2 linked regions of the Homo sapiens genome follow. The protein of the gene in region 1 interacts with the protein of each later gene in a biochemical or structural test. Each region holds a gene or a part of one and is shown on either strand. Other genes may lie near its edges.

What was found.
Region 2: the proteins of ATF7 (region 1) and PTP4A1 form a complex in vitro, tested with the Homo sapiens proteins (one study listed by BioGRID).

The regions. Positions count from the first base shown.
Region 1 is NC_000012.12:53,518,315-53,522,140, reverse strand, and holds part of ATF7 (cyclic AMP-dependent transcription factor ATF-7), read left to right. Parts: intron 1-3,826. UniProt on the Homo sapiens protein: Stress-responsive chromatin regulator that plays a role in various biological processes including innate immunological memory, adipocyte differentiation or telomerase regulation.
Region 2 is NC_000006.12:63,578,654-63,582,479, forward strand, and holds part of PTP4A1 (protein tyrosine phosphatase type IVA 1), read left to right. Parts: exon of another isoform or gene 1-244; coding exon 245-375; exon of another isoform or gene 376-603; coding exon 604-678; exon of another isoform or gene 679-1,360; coding exon of another isoform or gene 1,361-1,403; coding exon 1,404-1,521; coding exon of another isoform or gene 1,522-1,558; 3' UTR 1,559-3,826. UniProt on the Homo sapiens protein: Protein tyrosine phosphatase which stimulates progression from G1 into S phase during mitosis. May play a role in the development and maintenance of differentiating epithelial tissues.

The sequences.
Region 1 (3,826 bases):
ACATAAAATACTGCTAGAAGGCAATGGCCACAGAGTTGTGCTCAGGACATGTGCAATTCTGAAGTTAAAATTACTGTGAATAATTTGCCTATGGTCAATAAAAGCTAATAAATGCTAGTTTTCTTTTTACAAATTAAATTCATAGAACTATTGCTCTCAAACTTTGATATATTGTATTATTTTTCCACTGTATTATTTCAGAGATGTGTTCCCATAGAAAAGGAGTAACTATATCACCAATTTTAAACATCTCTACTTAAATTTTAATTTTAATATGTACTTCAGGGTGCATTCATTCATTAAGCAGATATTGATGGAATGTCTATTCTGTGCCAGTCACTGTTTTTCATGCTGGGGATATAATAGGGAACCAAATAAATTAGATTAAATCCCTGCCCTTGAGGAGCTTATATTTTAGTGGGTGAGACAGACAATAAACAAGATAAATAGGTAAAATATATGACATGTTAGATAACAGTAAATGTTAGAAGAAAAATAAAACAGGGAAGGGTAATATGAAATGTTAGCAGCAGGATAGAAATTTTAGATTAGGTGGCTTTTGAATAAAGACCTGAAGGAAGTGAGGGAGCTATATGCATTTATATGGAAGAAAAGTACTATAGGGAGGAGGATCAGCAACTGCAAAGATGCAAAGTCGCAAGGTACCTGGTACATCTAGGAACATCAAGGAGGCTCAGCTGGAGTTGGGGGTGGAGAGTAGTTGGAGACAAGTAGGGGACGTAATAGCAGCATTTTATGTAGGGTCTCATCAGTCATGGTGAGGATCTCAGCTTTTACTCCACACTGGGGGCCATTAGAGGGTTTTCAGCAGAAAAGTGATATAATTGATCTGACTAGGCTGGGCGCATGCCTGTAATCCCAGCACTTTGGGAGGCCAAGGCAGGCGTATCACCTGAGGTCGAGAGTTCGAGACCAGCCTGGCTAACATGGTGAAACTGCTTCTACTAAAAATACAAAAAATTAGCTGGGCGTGGTGGCATGCGCCTGTAATCCCAGCTACTTGGGAGCCTGAGGCAGGAGAATCACTTGAACCTGGGAAGCGGAGGTTGCAGTGAGCTGAGATGGTGCCATTGCGCTCCAGCCTGGGCAACAAGAGGGAAATTCCGTCTCAAAAAAAAAAAAAAAATTGATCTGACTTACATTTGAACAGGACATCAGGGGTACAAGGGCAGAAGCAGGCAGTCCACTTAGGGGCTGTTACGGTAATACAAGCAAGGGATGACGGTAGTGAAAGTGACGAGAGCAGGCTGAATCCAGGATATGTTTTGAAGTTAAAGTGATGAGAGCAGATGGGATGGTATATATGAGAAAAAGAATAAAAAATTACACCAAAGTTTCTGGCTTAAGCAACCACAAGAATGAAGTTGTCATTAATTGAGATAGGGTAAAGTGTAGGGGAAATGGTTTGGGAGGTATATCAGGAACTCAGTTTTGGACAAACTGAGTTTAAGGAGCCTATTAGGCTTACAGGTGGAGATGTCAAGCAGTCAGTTGGTTATATGGATTTGTAATTCAGAGGAAAGGCTGAAGATAAAACTCTGGGAGTCGGCAGCATATAGCTAGTTTTGGTTTTGTTTGGTTTGGGATTTTTTGGAGGCAGGGTCCACCTCTGTCTCCCAGGCTCTCAAGTGATCCTCCCCACTCAGCCTGAGTAACTGGGACCACAGGCGTGCACCACCATGCCCAGCTAATTTTTTTTTGTTATTTTAGAGATGATGTTTTGCCATATTGGCCAGGCTGGTCTCAGACTCCAGGACTTAAGGGATCTGCCCGCCTTGGCCTCCCAAAGTGCTGGAATTACATGTGTGAGTCACCACACCTGGCCATAGTTAGTTTTTAAAGCATTGAAACCAGATGAAGTTCCCAAGGGAGACAGCAGAGCTAGAAAAAGAGAAGTCCCAGGAATGAACCATGGGGTACTCCAACATTTACAGTTCATAGAAATGAGAAAGAACCCACAAGAGACTGAGAAGAAACAACCAGGAAGTGAGGAGGAAAACCAGCTACAGAGCCAAATGTGGTATTCTGTAAATCAAAATAAAAAAGTGTTTCAAGAAGTTCAGTGATTTTAAATCCTGTTGCTCGGTGGCTCACGCCTGTAATCCCAGCACTTTGGGAGGCTGAGGCGGGCGGATCACGAGGTCAGGAGATCGAGACCATCCTGGCTAACACGGTGAAACCCCATCTCTACTAAAAATAAAAAAAATCAGCCAGGCATGGTGGCGTGCATCTGTAGTCCCACCTAGTTGGGAAGCTGAGGCAGGAGAATCGCTTGAACCCAGGAGGCAGAGATTGCAGTGAGCCAAAATAGTGCCACTGCACTCCAGCCTGGGTGATAGAGCAAGACTCTGTCTAAAAAAATACCAAAAAAACAAATCCTGTTGATGGGCTAAAGAGGATAAGGACTGTTTATCAGTATATAATCTATATACGGTCAGTTTTCCACTTAGTCCCTGCAAGAACTCTGATACATAGTTAATCCATTAAACTACTTATTCTTTTTTTTTCTCCTGCCTCAGCCTCCCGAGTAGCTGGGACTACAGGCGGGCACCACCACGCCCAGCTCATTTTTGTATTTTTAGTAGAGACGGGGTTTCACCATGTTCCCCAGGCTAGTCTCCAATTCTTGGCTTCATGTGATCTGCCCACCTCTGTCTCCCAAAGTGCTAGGATTACAGGTGTGAGCCACCGCACCCGGCCTTACATATTCATTATAGCAAAGATGTATTTAGTTCCTGCTGTGTGGTATAGATATTATGTAAGTACCTGACACATGATGAATAAGACACTGTCACTACCTCTGAGAGAATCATAGGGTCATATAAACCTGTGGATGAGGTAAGGATAGATATCCCAGTTAAAAAGCCCCTAAACTGGGAGCTTCCTAAGGATAGGGTTCCCGTTTTCTTCTCTGTGTACCCATGCCTGGTACATGGATGATGCTCAGTAAAATGTTTGATGAATATATGCTGTGAAAACACAAAGAATAAAACAGTTAATGTACTGAGGGTAACAAAGATGGCTTCACAGAGGACGCAATATTTGAATCTTTTTTTTTTTTTTTTTGAGACGGAGTCTCGCTCTGTTGCCCAGGCTGGAGTGCAGTGGCACAATCTCGGCTCACTGCAAGCTCTGCCTCCCGGGTTCACACCATTCTCCTGCCTCAGTCTCCCAAGTAGCTGGGACAACAGGCGCCCGCCACCATGCCCAGCTAATTTTTTGGTTTTTTTTTTTTTTGAGTAGAGACGGGGTTTCACCATGTTAGCCAGGGTAGTCTCGATCTCCTGACCTCCTGATCCGCCCAGCTTGGCCTCTGAAAGTGCTGGGATTACAGGCGTGAGCCACTGCGCCCGGCCATATTTGAATCTTAAAAGAAGACTCAGGCATTCATCAGGATGTCAGAAATACAACTGACTATGGAACGTTTGCCTTTTTTCCACATATTTCTGTTTAAGCAGCCATAGAGGCTATCCGATGTTTAATAAAACTCCTTGACTTGCTGAGTGTGATGACTCATACCTGTAATCCCGGCAATTTGGGAGTCTGAAGCAGGAGGATGGCTTGAGGCCAGCAGTTGAAGGCTGCTGTGAGCTGTGATTGTGCCATGGCACCTCCAGCCTGGGTGACAGAGTGAGACCCTCTAAAAAAATTTTAAAAACATTTGACTAATGAGCAACATGGAGTTACCATTGTATGTAGCTCAGGTAGTTGTGTTTAGTAGTAAAATGTTAGTGTCACTTTAGGTGGAGTGGCATAACTTATAATGTTTTATAATCATTAATGCCTAGCTAATTTTTAGTCAGGA
Region 2 (3,826 bases), on another chromosome or scaffold:
TATTATTGTGCAGAATCTTAATTTCTAAATAAAGGTGAAAAGCTAAGCAAGGATTTGAAGTTGTGAAACATTTTTGTAAAGATTGAGCATTTAGTCACATTTGGTAGACAACAGGGTTTAATAAGATTTGATTAAACATTAAAATGAGAATGCTTTTGAAAACATTTCCATGTTAGAAATTTAGAATTATTACTACAGTGTTTATATTAATGATCTAAAATGTTTAAATATTCTTCTGACTTAGGATTGGCCTTTTGATGATGGTGCACCACCATCCAACCAGATTGTTGATGACTGGTTAAGTCTTGTGAAAATTAAGTTTCGTGAAGAACCTGGTTGTTGTATTGCTGTTCATTGCGTTGCAGGCCTTGGGAGGTAAATGAATTTATCAATTTGATTCTAGGTAAAAATCTATTGATAATGAAAATACAGAAACTTGAAAAATTCTTATAATTTTTTAATATAAAGTCAACATTTGTCATAGGTATTACTTAAATAGGAAGGGTGGTAGATAATACTTCTGAGTTGGGGAATGTTTGGAGAAATAAATTTACAAAGATCTGATTTTGAAAAAACTATTTATCAAAATTCTTACCTCACCAGAGCTCCAGTACTTGTTGCCCTAGCATTAATTGAAGGTGGAATGAAATACGAAGATGCAGTACAATTCATAAGACAGTAAGTAATGGATTCTCTTTTCATTTGTACTCTCTTTCATTTCCTTGTTGAGTGTCAGTGAGTTTAATAGTCTAATAGCCCATTTAATCATTATGATTATTTTTTGAGATAGTATTAAAACCAGGAAATCAAGATCTTACATTCTTTTTTGCATTTCATGCAGTTGCTCATATTACTAAGATTCTAATCCAACAAGAGTTTTTGAATTATTGTTTTGCTTTAAATACTTGATTGAATATGTTGGTTATTTTGTATTTTTATTGAGGTATAATTAAGATACATTTAAAGATACAATAAAATGCACAGGTCTCCAAAGGAGACCAGTTGACAATAACAGCCAAATTAACCATCCAATACAACACATAGAATATTTTGAGTGCTGTAGAACATGCCTTTGTGGCTTTTGTAGTCATCTTCCCTGCTACCAGAGGCAACTTCTGACTTCACTATAAATTAGTTTTGTCTTTTCGTGGACTTACGTGTAAATGGATTTGTGAGTCGACTGTTGTAACCAATACTCAAACGAAGATATAAAGAAAATTAACTTTTTATGATTTTTTCCATTTACACTGATGTGCCTGTTCATATTCCTTTCTGCATCAGGTCACAGCCTAATTAATCAAAAGATAAATTGCCACAAGAGAGGTGATGGTTGTCTATAAGACACTAAATATTACTGTAGGGGGCTTTTGCCTTGTTTCATTTTTTTTTTTTTTTCCTCCCAGAAAGCGGCGTGGAGCTTTTAACAGCAAGCAACTTCTGTATTTGGAGAAGTATCGTCCTAAAATGCGGCTGCGTTTCAAAGATTCCAACGGTCATAGAAACAACTGTTGCATTCAATAAAATTGGGGTGCCTAATGCTACTGGAAGTGGAACTTGAGATAGGGCCTAATTTGTTATACATATTAGCCAACATGTTGGCTTAGTAAGTCTAATGAAGCTTCCATAGGAGTATTGAAAGGCAGTTTTACCAGGCCTCAAGCTAGACAGATTTGGCAACCTCTGTATTTGGGTTACAGTCAACCTATTTGGATACTTGGCAAAAGATTCTTGCTGTCAGCATATAAAATGTGCTTGTCATTTGTATCAATTGACCTTTCCCCAAATCATGCAGTATTGAGTTATGACTTGTTAAATCTATTCCCATGCCAGAATCTTATCAATACATAAGAAATTTAGGAAGATTAGGTGCCAAAATACCCAGCACAATACTTGTATATTTTTAGTACCATACAGAAGTAAAATCCCAGGAACTATGAACACTAGACCTTATGTGGTTTATTCCTTCAATCATTTCAAACATTGAAAGTAGGGCCTACATGGTTATTTGCCTGCTCACTTTATGTTTACATCTCCCACATTCATACCAATATACGTCAGGTTTGCTTAACCATTGATTTTTTTTTTTTTTTACCAAGTCTTACAGTGATTATTTTACGTGTTTCCATGTATCTCACTTTGTGCTGTATTAAAAAAACCTCCATTTTGAAAATCTACGTTGTACAGAAGCACATGTCTTTAATGTCTTCAGACAAAAAAGCCTTACATTAATTTAATGTTTGCACTCTGAGGTGCAACTTAACAGGGAGGGCCTGAGAAAAGAATGGGAGGGGGCTATTAATTATTTTTAGCAAAATGTTGCCTTTGTCTTGTGCAAACATGTAGAATATGCTCTTTAATTTAGTAAAATATTTTTTTAAAAGGTAGAGATGCTTTGTTATTGTAATCATAAACTTCCTGAAATTCTTGTAATTTTTTTCCCATACTTATCAGAAGTGTGTTTACCAACTTATTTTTGTTTGAAAGTGTGATTTTTTTTTTCCTTCCCAACCTCTCTTGCAAAAAAAGAAATGGGTTTCTGCTAATGAATTGAGCAGACATCTAATATTTTATATGCCTTTTGAGCTGTGTAACTTAATATTTGGATACTTGACAATTTGTTTTATTATGTAATTGATAAAATGGTGATGTGTATTAATGTTAGTTCAACCATATATTTATACTGTCTGGGGATGTGTGGTTATAGTTCTGTGGGAGAAATAATTTTGTCAGTGTTCACCAGCTTGTAAAAACTTAGTGCGAGAGCTGAAACATCTAAATAAATAATGACATGCATTTATCATCATTGAGATTGGTTTGCTTAAAATTAACTTATTTTGTAGAAGACAAAATGAATTGCACTTCACTTAATGTGTGTCCTCATCTTTTTACAAATAAATGAAGGATTATAAATGATGTCAGCATTTTAGTAAACTTTTAGACAAAATTTGTTAGGGTCATTCATGAAAACTTTAATACTAAAAGCACTTTCCATTATATACTTTTTAAAGGTCTAGATAATTTTGAACCAATTTATTATTGTGTACTGAGGAGAAATAATGTATAGTAGAGGACAGCCTTGGTTTGTAAAGCTCAGTTCCACTAGTTCATGGTTTTGTGCAACTTCTGAGCCTCAGTTTTCTCCTTTGCAAATTAATAATTACATACCTTTATAGATTTTGAAATTAATTTAAATATTAGTATTTGGTACATGAAGGCTTAATGTTAAGTTTCCTTTAATGATCCACAATAATCCCTTTGATCACGTTAATCTAAATCTAGATGTCTTTGTCTAATTTTTTTTGAATAGCAGTTATAAATGTAAAGGACTCAAAGTTTAAGTAAAAAGTGATACTCCACCTTGTGTTTCAAAGAATTTAGTTCCACCTCTTCATACCAGTTTAACACTTAATATATTTCATTGGATTTTAGACAGGGCAAAAGGAAGAACAGGGGCCTCTGGAGGCCCTTGGTTATTTAAATCTTGGATTATTTGTGATAGTAATCACAAATTTTTGGCTAATTTTTAACCTGAGGTTTTGTTTTTTTTTTAAAGGAAATGCAGCCTAGTCTTGAGAACATAATTTTATATAATCAATTACTAAATGTTAAACTATTACCACACAGCCCATAAAACAGCATTTGCGTTTATTGAGAGAGAGGATGTGCCATCATGATTAATGAAAACTATCTTTTGAGTTTGAAAAGAAATTAATTTGCAGTGTTTGGATTGTATATATGGTGCTAAAAATAAATTAATTTACTTTATAAACCTTATCTGTACATTATACGATGTGATGAAATTTGCTTTTTATCCAAATATTTTGTA